3 linked regions of the Homo sapiens genome follow. The protein of the gene in region 3 purifies or fractionates together with the protein of the main gene of each other region. This does not show direct contact. Each region holds a gene or a part of one and is shown on either strand. Other genes may lie near its edges. The genes, in order: DHODH, ETFDH and SLC25A16.

Evidence for each region.
Region 1: the proteins of SLC25A16 (region 3) and DHODH purify together in Homo sapiens (affinity purification with mass spectrometry; one large-scale study listed by BioGRID and IntAct). This does not show direct contact.
Region 2: the proteins of SLC25A16 (region 3) and ETFDH purify together in Homo sapiens (affinity purification with mass spectrometry; one large-scale study listed by BioGRID and IntAct). This does not show direct contact.

The regions. Positions count from the first base shown.
Region 1 is NC_000016.10:72,015,244-72,018,970, reverse strand, and holds part of DHODH (dihydroorotate dehydrogenase (quinone), mitochondrial), read right to left. Parts: intron 3,241-3,727; exon of another isoform or gene 3,118-3,240; coding exon of another isoform or gene 3,113-3,117; intron 1,948-3,112; coding exon 1,865-1,947; intron 1-1,864. UniProt on the Homo sapiens protein: Catalyzes the conversion of dihydroorotate to orotate with quinone as electron acceptor. Required for UMP biosynthesis via de novo pathway.
Region 2 is NC_000004.12:158,682,296-158,686,022, forward strand, and holds part of ETFDH (electron transfer flavoprotein-ubiquinone oxidoreductase, mitochondrial isoform 1 precursor), read left to right. Parts: coding exon 1-129; intron 130-2,296; coding exon 2,297-2,378; intron 2,379-2,805; coding exon 2,806-2,924; intron 2,925-3,727. UniProt on the Homo sapiens protein: Accepts electrons from ETF and reduces ubiquinone.
Region 3 is NC_000010.11:68,517,524-68,521,023, forward strand, and holds part of SLC25A16 (solute carrier family 25 member 16), read right to left. Parts: intron 696-3,500; exon of another isoform or gene 1-695. UniProt on the Homo sapiens protein: May be involved in the transport of coenzyme A in the mitochondrial matrix. Very little is known about the physiological function of this carrier.

The sequences.
Region 1 (3,727 bases), on a different chromosome or scaffold from region 3:
CAAAGAATCCAATTAGACAAAAGGTTTATCATAAGGTCTCCAAGCTTCCCAGTCTAGCACCCATCAAGCCAAGATCATCTGTAAGCTTGAATTCTTTTCCTCACAAGTAAACTGACTTGAAGGAGAATATCACTTTCATGTAGCTAACGGATTAGGAGTCATCTGCCCAAACTGACAAGATTTGGGAGTTAGACAGAAATTGCTGGATTACTCTGTCCCCAGAGGGCACCAAAGCTTTTGTCAACGCGTGTTCCTTGGCATGGTGCTAACAACAAGCTGCCATGAAGGCCCCTAAGCTGCTGGCAGACACATCCGTGCAGAGCACTGCTGCAGGCTCCGCTTCACTCCGTAGACCAGGAGGGCCACAGGGAGGGAGGGCTGGGTGAGGAAGAACAGGAGATAAAGCCAGGACACTGCACTGCAGACACCGAGGAGAAGAAAAAGCAAGCACGAAGGCGGGCAAGCATCACAAACCATGCAAGTCCTGTGATGACCTCCAAAGCTCCCCAGGTGGGCGGCTCTGCAGTACAGCGGGGTCTGGTTCCACCCAACCCAGGGGTTTCCAAAAGATAATTTCCTATTCCCCAAATCTGACACTGCTGAGTGCCTCAGCCCTTTCCACCTCACTTCCTGAAATGAATCCCATATCCATTGGTTTCTTCATCCTGCTACCAGGACTATCTGAGACTAAGACATCCTGGAAGGAGTTTCAGAGGGACCCAAAGAAGAAAATGGTCGCTACTGAGCCACAACCCCACACAATCCCAGAGGGTCCCAGGGGCATTAGGGTCAGGACAACAGAGGGCTGCGACCACTAAGTGCATCCTGAGAGCAAGTGAGGCAGAGGCCACAGAGAACACCCGCATCGCCGGAGGCGTCTTCAAAAATGCATGTTGTGGCCAGGCGCGGTGGCTCACGCCTGTAATCCCAGCACTTTGGGAGGCCGAGGCAGGCGGATCACCAGGTCAGGAAATCGAGACCATCCTGGCTAACACAGTGAAACCCCGTCTCTACTAAAAATACAAAAAGAAATTAGCTGGGTGTGGCGGCGGGTGCCTGAAGTCCCAGCTACTCGGGAGGCTGAGGCAGGAGAATAGTGAGAACGCGGGAAGCAGAGCTTGCAGTGAGCCGAGATCCCGCCACTGCACTCTAGCCTGGGGCGACAGAGCGAGACTCCGTCTCAAAAAAAAAAAAAAAAAAGCATGTTGTTTTTGGTTTTTTTAGAGAAATGGGATCTCACCATGTTGCCCAGGCTGGTCTTAAACTCCTGAGTTCAAGTGATCCTCCCAACTTGGGCACCCAAAGTATTGAGATTACAGGTGTGAACTGTCCCGAACCAAAAATGAGTTTCCAAAACAACTCATGAAGAATATTTTCCCAAATGCTAATATTAGTTAGCCTTGAGTAGGGAGGAGTATCTGTTTCTTGAACATTCTTTCTTTACGCTTCTCTGTATTTACTAAGTCTTCTATAATTAATGAACATTATTTACACAATGGATGACAAAAAAGGGAGGACAGAGTGGGCCACGGGAGGATGACATTCAAGTCCTGCTCCTGCCCTCATTGCCTGTGTGATCATTGCCCAGCCGCTTTGCTTCGCTTGCTTTCAGGCCTCCCTAGTTACGGTAACAGGTTACATAACAAGGCAGAGGCAAAGTGAGTATTTGCTAAATTGCAAAATCCAGTTAAACTCTTGGAAGCTGTGTGGGACCAGGAAAATCGCTCTAGGAGAGGTGTCCTGAGGTCCTCAGTGGTTTTTGCTATTGCTCAATCATGTTTATTTCACTAGAAATGTTCCCAGCATTTCTCCCACGTTTCCTCCTAATAAATAAGAAAGGCCCACTGACACAACCCCACTTTACCTTCTGTGAGCTTGGCCTGCTTCTGCTGTCTGGCCCGTAACCTGTGTTCCACCACTGAAAGCCCGTGACTGTTAAATCCATACCTGCAGAGCACAAGCACACGGGAGGGGCAGAGTGAGACGGCACCATAGCCACTTCCCATACACTTAGGACTTTTTCAAACAAGAGAAAAAAAAAAATCACAGTCAGTTCTTACACTTCCAGGGTCTAAACACCACTGGGACTCCTAGAGAACTTGCCAGAACACCATCCAATACCCAGGGAAAGATTAAAATTTGCAAATGCTCAGCCAGCTAGCACTGGAAACAGCCCAGACTCAGCAGCAGCTGCCCCAGACCTGCTGGATCCCCACTCCTTACCCAGCCACTCTCTGAGAATTGCACACTCACTTGCCACCTTCTGCCTGGGCTCCCAAACAGCCTCCTGAAGCCCCTGCAGCCACTCCATCTCTCTAGGCTTTCTGTCTGAAAATCACCTCTCTTCCTAGCTCAGAGCAAACGCTCCCTCTCCTCCTGCACAGAGCTCGCAGCTGCAAAGGATCCCTCATCCCCCTGGCCTTCATACAGAGCTTTGGCCCCACCTTTCTCCTGGCTTGGGATAGATACATACATATATGCTTAAGGTCCCTAGGTTACAATCTTCTTGAGGGTGAGCAACATCTCATACTTCTCTCATCCCTCTGTCACTGTCACTAGACACTCCCTGAAGGCAGGAGCCTCATCTCTCTTTCATCCCTGTATCCCCAGCCCCACTGTGGGTTTTGACCTAGTGGCCAGTCCCCTTCCTCTTCCTCTTTGCCAGTGAAACCCACCTGCCCTGATACAGGGTAAAAATGCTAATGACTCCTTTCCCAGCCTTGCTGGCAAGGGAAGCGTAAGTGTATGCCAAGTGTAGACACTGAGACACAAGTGAGACCTACTGGGAGCCTCTGAGAACATCCCTGCCCTTTTTCCTTTCTGCTCTTGGGCGTCCGTGTAAGAACATAATACTTGCAGCCGAGGTCGCTCTCTGACAAGCAAAAAGAAAACGCCCAGAGAAGTTGGACCAGAGTCTCAACACTGCCCTGGTGCTCAACCAACCCTGGACCTGCCCATTGCACCTGTTATGAGAAGAAAATAATATCAAATGTGCCTGTTGTTTAAGCCACTTTGTTAGAGCCAAAAGCATCCATAATAACAGACACACTGGCACACATATCTGATGACTTCATAACTTCACCCATTCATTAAGTGTTTACTACACACTTACCACATGCCACACAACCAGGAGGCCGCACACACAGGGCTCAGAGCAGGATCTCACACCCCTGCTCACCTATAGGATTCACCAAGTACCATCATCCCAGCACCTGCAGTTATCTGTAGCAGCTGAATGTTAAGCAAATATATTTTGCCTGGCCAATTCTGAAGATATTGATCCCCACCTGCAATGCAGCAGAAAGATCAATAACTTGATCTCTAATGCTGGAGAATTTCCCTGAAACAAGCACAAGAAAGCAGGAAGCACGGCCAAGTAAATGTCCTACAGGTCCGTCTCCCAGGAGGCCACCAGTGGCCCCAAAGATGCCCATCGAAATCTCCCCAAGGAGGCTCTTCAAAATCCTCTTACCAAAAAGTAAGCACTTCTTCACCTTTTGGGTTTGCTGTAGTAAAAATTGCCCAGGGATGACAAAGGGAAGGGCTTTATACAGTCTAGAAGGATTTCTCTTACTAAGAGCAGCTGTGCATGTTGAATATTACATTTCCCTGTTTGCTAAAGGCTGGGGCTGTGCTAGCCAATACAAGCCTGCTGGCCGCATGTGGCTACTGGCTGCTGGGAATGCAGCTGGTCCAAAGGGAGAGGTGCTGGAAGTAAAATGCACAC
Region 2 (3,727 bases), on a different chromosome or scaffold from region 3:
GCACATGAAAAGGACATCCGTGTGTGTCTAGTGGAGAAAGCTGCCCAGATAGGAGCTCATACTCTCTCAGGGGCTTGCCTTGATCCAGGTGCTTTTAAAGAACTCTTCCCAGACTGGAAAGAGAAGGGGGTATGAAAAATTGTTTTTTATACAAAGTCTAATCTTTTGTAATTGTATTTCAGTAATTGTTCCCAAATTACTGGAATATAGGAAACCCTTTTCATGTAACTCTATCTTTTTTTTTTTTCTTTTTTTGAGATGGAGTTTCACTCTTGTTGCCCAGGCTGGAGTGCAATGGCGCGATCTTGGCTCACTGCAACCTCCACCTCCCAGGTTCAAGTGATTCTCCTGCCTCAGTCTCCCTAGTAGCTGGGTTTACAAGCACCTGCCAACACTCCCAGCTAATTTTTTGTATTTTTAGTAGAGACAGGGTTTCACTGTATTGGCCAGACTGGTCTCGAACTCCTGACCTCAGGCGATCCACCCACCTTGGCCTCCCAAAGCACTGGGATTACAGGCATGAGCCACCACGCCCAGCCCATGTAACTCTAAGGGAATAATTATATACTTTTTAAATTAAAAAAAAATTTATATCAGAATTGTAATTTATGATATTAACAAATATTTTTGTGTAATGCTTTCTACATGTATTTATGTAATGGGTATATGAGAAGATAACTTGAGAAGACCTTTGAATATTTCTTGGGAGGCATTTTGTATTTTGAGGGTATTTTTAAACTTGTTCTTTAAGTCTTTGTATGATTGTTCTTAATAAAGTAATAATTCCTGGGACAATGCAATATCTAAAGCCAAAGAGGATAACCTAATTTTCTGAAGAAACATATTAATATGGCTTCCCATAACCTAAGCAGAAAAACCACAGGTGTGATATACAGAGGACCAAGTCCAAGTTTTATTGTCTTAAATAAAATTTGTATGAATTTGGTTAAAATCTTAGATTGTCAATTTTTTCTTCTCTAAGATGGGTTATATTATACCTGTCCTACCTCCTAGATTAGATTATTCAGTGGTTGTGAATATACTTGCAAAGATCAAAAATTATATAAATATCTGTATTTTTTCCATATGGAATAAATTGAATTCCAAAAATTTCGTCTGTCTCTCCTTTCTGAAATATCAAGCTCCCTTAAACTAGAAATACTTTAATTAGGCCCAGTTGAATTTATCCTTTTGATATTATATCAGAAATGGATATTATTGAATTAACACTGACATAATATCAATTCTAATAGAAAATGTTTTTCATGTTAAAGCCCTTTATTGCTTTGGCACCTTTTTTTTGAGACAGGGTCTCACTCTGTCACCCAGGCTGGAGTACAGTGGCACAATCATGGCTCTCTGCAGCCTCAACCTCCGGGGCTCAAGTAATCCTCCCACCTCAGCCCCCTTAGTAGCTGGGATTACAGGCGTGCACCACCACACCCAGCTAATTTTTGTATTTTTTTAGTACAGACAGGATTTTTGCCATGTGGGCTCAAAACCACTAGCTTCGGCCTCCCAAATTGCTGGGACTACAGGCCTGTGAGCCACCACACAGACTTTGGTGCCTTTTAATATGTATAGCCAGCAGGTACAGTGTAACAACATGTTAATTCTCTTTATCCAAGAGGAAAATAAAACTTCTCTTACCTTTCACCAACCAGGAAGTTTCAACTTAAGAGCCAAGCAACTTGGCTAACCTCTCCACAGAGACAAAAAGACATGAGGGTCACGTTTCAAAGGTGTTTCCAAGACTCCCAAGAAATATATTCCTGGGATGCAAAACTGGCAAGAGGTTTATTTAGATTTTTAAAAGATTCCCAGCTGGCCGGGCGTGTAATCCCAACACTTTGGGAGGCCAAGGCGGATGGATGACTTGAGGTCAGGAGTTCGAGACCAGCCTGGCCAACATGGTAAAACCCCCTCTCTACTAAAAATACAAAAATTAGCCCAGCATGGTGGCAGGTGCCTATAAGCCCAGCCACTTGGGAGGCTGAGGCAGGAGAAACACTTGAACCCAGGAGGCAGAGGCTACAGTGAGCTGAGATTGCACCACTGCACTCCAGCCTGGGTGACAGAAAGAGACACTGTCTCAAAAAAAAAAAAAAAAAAGATTTCTGTACATCTCAGACAGAGAAAGGATTCACAGTGACAAGTTTTATAAAGGAAATGCCAAAAGAAAATTAGGGGGGAGTTCTTTTTTTGTCATCAGAGTACATTTTATAGTTTTTTTGTATTTATATTTACACTTGCAAATATAAACTAAAAACATTTCTTTTTCTTCTTTTATTTCTAGGCTCCACTTAACACTCCTGTAACAGAAGACAGATTTGGAATTTTAACAGAGAAATACAGAATTCCTGTGCCAATTCTTCCAGGTAAGGTATAGTGAATATGCATAGAACTATGGAATTCCACAGCTGGAAGGAACTACATTTCATCTGACGAAATTTCCTCCTTTTACAGACAAGAACTGAGACCCAGATATTTGAAGGACTTACTCAAAGCTATACAGCTAGCTGGTGGGAAAGCAGGACTAGAACTCAGTTCTTTTGTCTTCCAGTCTAGAAGAATTGAGATAGCCTTGTAAGCCAAGCAGGAATTTCTAACTTAGTGCTTTAATGTTGTTTGTAATGTAATAAATTAGAACTCTAGACCAAAATTGTAGAAAATAAGTTGAAAGTGTGACCATCAATGTAGCACTTATGTAGAAATACATATTGATTCGAAATTTTAAAGTATTTATGTTTTTGTAATGTCTTATCAATAAAAAGTCAGATTTATAAATTAAGCATATATTTATAGGGCTTCCAATGAATAATCATGGCAATTACATTGTACGCTTGGGACATTTAGTGAGCTGGATGGGCGAACAAGCAGAAGCCCTTGGTGTTGAAGTATACCCTGGTTATGCAGCTGCTGAGGTTTGTATAGTTTTGTTTTGTTTTAATATTTATAGGAACTCTCTTTTTTTAATAAGTGGAGAATTTTATAAAGTTGAAGAAATAAATATTTTTTAAAAGCCATGGGATTTTAGAATTATAAGATTAGAAGGAATCTTTAAAGTATCTAATCCAAAGAGTACTTGAATTCCTCATGTTGTACCCCCATCAAGTGATTATCCAACTTATGATTGATCACCATAAGGGATGAAAAATTGTAGATTGTTGGTAATCTCTTCCTTATTTTGAACAGAACTTACCTATGGTTTTATACTATCCAGAACAAATCTATGCCCTCTTCCAAGGACAACTTTCTAATTATAATTATTCCCTGCTCTCTCTTCCTCCCTATCTTTACTCTGGAATTTTTTTTTATTTCCCAGTATAGGGGTGGTATAGGAGTTAAGGGAAAGGTTTGTCTCTGCCCTCTGAAGGTTCACCAGAAATGAACTGACAATAGACAGAGTAATAGGAGAAGAAGCATAGAGATTTATTTAACATGCATAAGCACAAGAGAATGATGACCCGATAACCCAGTGAGGTCCAAATGCTTATCTACCTTTCAGCAGAAGGGAAGGGGAAATTGGGTGTTTAGCAATCTTGAAAGGAAGTGAATGATTTTTAGGGAAAATGAATGCACCCAAGACACAGAAATTAACTTGTAAATGATTCTCTTTGGAATTTGAATGAGCCTGAGAGGCAGGCATGATCTTATGAAAAAGTGTTTGTCTAGGTGTAGTTGCTTTTTTCTGTTTTCTTTTCTGCAATAGATATTAACAATAAGA
Region 3 (3,500 bases):
CTCCTTTTATAAAAAGGTGAATAACAGGCCAGGCACAGTAGCTCGCACCTGTAATCCCAGCACTTTCGGAGGCTGAGGTAGAAAAATTACTTGAGACTAGGAGTTTGAGACCAGCCTGGGAAACACAGTGAGACCTCATCTCTACAAAAAATTTTTTAAAATCGGCTGGGCGCAGTGCTTCATGCCTGCAATCCCAGCACTTTGGCAGCTCGGGGCGGGCAGATCTCCTGAGGTCAGGAGCTCGACACCAGCCTGGCCAACATGGTGAAACCCCGTCTCTATCAAATATACAAAAAAATTAGCAAGGCATGGTGGCAGGCGCCTGTAGTCCCAGCTATTTGGGAGGTTAAGGCAGGAGAATCCCTTGAACCCAGGAGGCCGAGGTTGCAGTGAGCCGAGATCACACCATTGCACTCTAGCCTGGGCGACAAAGCGAGACTCCATCTCAAAGAAAAAAAAAAATTAGCAAGGCATGGTGGTGTGCCTCAGTACTCAGAGACTAAGGCTGGAGGATGACGTGAGCCAACAGTTGGAGGTCACGGAGAGCTATAATTGTGCGGCTTCGCTCCAGCCTAGATAACACAGCAACACCTGGTCTTTAAAAAACAACAAGTCCGGGCACGGTGGCTCACGCCTGTAATCCCAGCAATTTGGGAGGCCGAGGCAGGCAGATCACTTGAGGTCAGGAGTTTGAAACCAGCCTGGCCAATATGGTGAAACCCCATTTCTACTAAAAATAAAAAAATTAGCCGGGCATGGTGGCGGCTGCCTGTAATCCCAACTACTGGGGAGGCCGAGGAAGAAGAATCTCTTGAACCCAAAAGGTGGAGGTTGCAGTGAGCTGAGATCACACCATTGCACTCCAGCCTGGGTTACAGAGACTATGTCTTAAAAAAAGAAAAAAAAAGAAAACACAAATAAAATTTTAATTTTAAAAATCCATATTCTGAGATATCCAAAAATAAATTGTGGCTGGGAGCCGTGGCTCATGCCTGTAATCGCAGCACTTTGGGAGGCCGAGGCGGGCAGATCACGAGGTCAGGAATTCAAGACCAGCCTGGCCAACATGGTAAAATCCCATCTCTACTAAAAACACAAAAATTAGCTGGGCATGGTGGTGCGTGCATGTAATCCCAGCTGCTTGGGAGGCTGAGGCAGAAGAATTGCATGAACCCAGGAGGCAGAGGTAATAGTGAGCCGAGATCGCACCACTGCACTCCAGCCCGAGCAACAGAGCAGGTCTCGGTCTCAAAAAAACAAATAAAATAAATAAATAAATAAATAAATTAAATAAATAAATAAATAAAATGTATTTTTTACTCAGATATTATATCCACTATGTTTCCATATCAAAGCTCTCTTATCCGAACTAATGAAAATAATAGTTGGCCAGGTATGGTGACTCATACCTGTAATCCCAGCGCTTTGGGAGGCCGAGGTGGGCGGATCACCTGAGGTCGGGAGTTTGAGACCAGCCCGACCAACATGGAGAAACCCTGTCTCTACTAAAAATACAAAATTAGCTGGGTGTGATGACGTGTGCCTGTAATCCCAGCTACTTGGGAGGCTGAGGCAGGAGAATCACTTGAACTTGGGAGGCAGAGGTTGTGGTGAGCCGAGATCACACCATTGCACTCTAGCCTGGGCAACAAGAATGAAACTCCGTCTCAAAAAACAAAAAAAGGCTGGGCGCAGTGGCTCATGCCTGTAATCCCAGCACTTTGGGAGGCCGAGGTGGGTGGATCACGAGGTCAGGAGTTCAAGACCAGCCTGGCCAAGATGGTGAAACCTTGTCTCTACTAAAAATACAAAAATTAGCCAGGTGTGGTAGCGGACACCTGTAATCCCAGCTACTCGGGAGGCTGAGGCAGAGAATTGCCTGAACCCGGGAGGCAGAGGTCTCAGTGAGCTGAGATTGTGCCACTGCACTCCAGCCTGGGTGACAGAGTGAGACTCCATCTCAAAAAAAAAAAAAAAGTAAATCATAATCATAGCTATCCAAAATTATGGGTAAACTAAAAATAATATGCATTTGGATACATTTGGTTTCAGAATATTTTATATTATCTTCTCAGTTGTGTATGAATTAACTGTATAATGAATTATTTAGGCCAGGTGCAGTGGCTCTCGCCTGTATTCCCAGCACTTTGGGAGGCCGAGGTGGGCAGATCATCTGAGGTCAGGAGTTCGAGACCAGCCTAGCCAACATGGTGAAACCCCATCTCTTCTAAAAATACAAAAATTAGCCAGGTGTGGTGGCACATGCTTATAATCCCAGATACTTGGAAAGCTGGGGCAGGAGAATCGCTTGAACCCGGGAGGCATAGGTGGCAGTGAGCCGAGATCATGTCACTGCACTCCAGCCTGGGCGACAAGAACGAAACTCCGTCTCAAAAAAAAAGAGAGAAATTGTTTAGAATGTATTCAATAAGTACTTTTATATAATAGTATCTTTTTTTTTTTTTTTCCAGGGCTGGAGTGCAATGGTGCGATCTCGGCTCACTACAACCTTCACCTCCCAGGTTCAAGCGATTCTCCTGCCCCAGCCTCCCGAGTAGGTGGGATTACAGGAACCCACCACCTCGCCCAGCTAATTTTTTCTTTTTTTAGTCTTTAGTAGAGAGAGGGTTTCACCATGTTGGCCAGACTGTTCTTGAACTCCTGATCTCGTCATCCACCCGCCTCTACCTCCCAAAGTACTGGGATTACAGGCATGAGCCACCGCACCCAGCCTATTTAATAGTATCTTAACTTGCTTTCACACTACGATAGTCCCCCCTTATCTGCAATTTCACTTTCTGCAGTTTTAGTTACCACCAGTCATCCATGTTCAAAAAATATTAGATAGACAATCTGTAAATAAACAATTGACCCGGGCACAATGGCTCATGCCTATAATCCCAGCATTTTGGGAGGCCTAGGTGGGAGGATCACTTGAGGTCAGGATTTCAAGACCAGCCTGGCCAACTTGGTGAAACCCCGTCTCTACTAAAAATACAAAAATTAGGCCAGGCGCAGTGGCCCACACCTGTAATCCCAGCACTTTGGAAGTCCGAGGCAGGCAGATCACCTGAGGTCAGAAGTTCGAAACCAGCCTGACCAACATGGAGAAACACTATCTCTACTAAAAATACAAAAATTAGCTAGGCCTGGTGGCACATGCCTGTAATCCCAGCTACACGGGAGGCTGAGGCAGGAGAATTGCTTGAATCCAGGAGGCAGAGGTTGCAGTGATTCACAATTGCACCATTACACTCCAGCCTGGGCAACAAGAGCAAAACTCTGTCTCAAAAAAAAAAAAAAAAAAATACAAAAATTAGCCAGGCGAAGGGCCAGGCATGGTGCCTCACATCTGTAATCCCAGCATTTTGGGACGTTGAGGCGGGCAGATCGCAAGGTCAGGAGATCGAGACCATCCTGGCTAACATGGTGAAACCCCGTCTCCACTAAAACTACAAAAAATTAGCCGGCATGGTGGCACGTGCCTGCAGTCCCAGCTA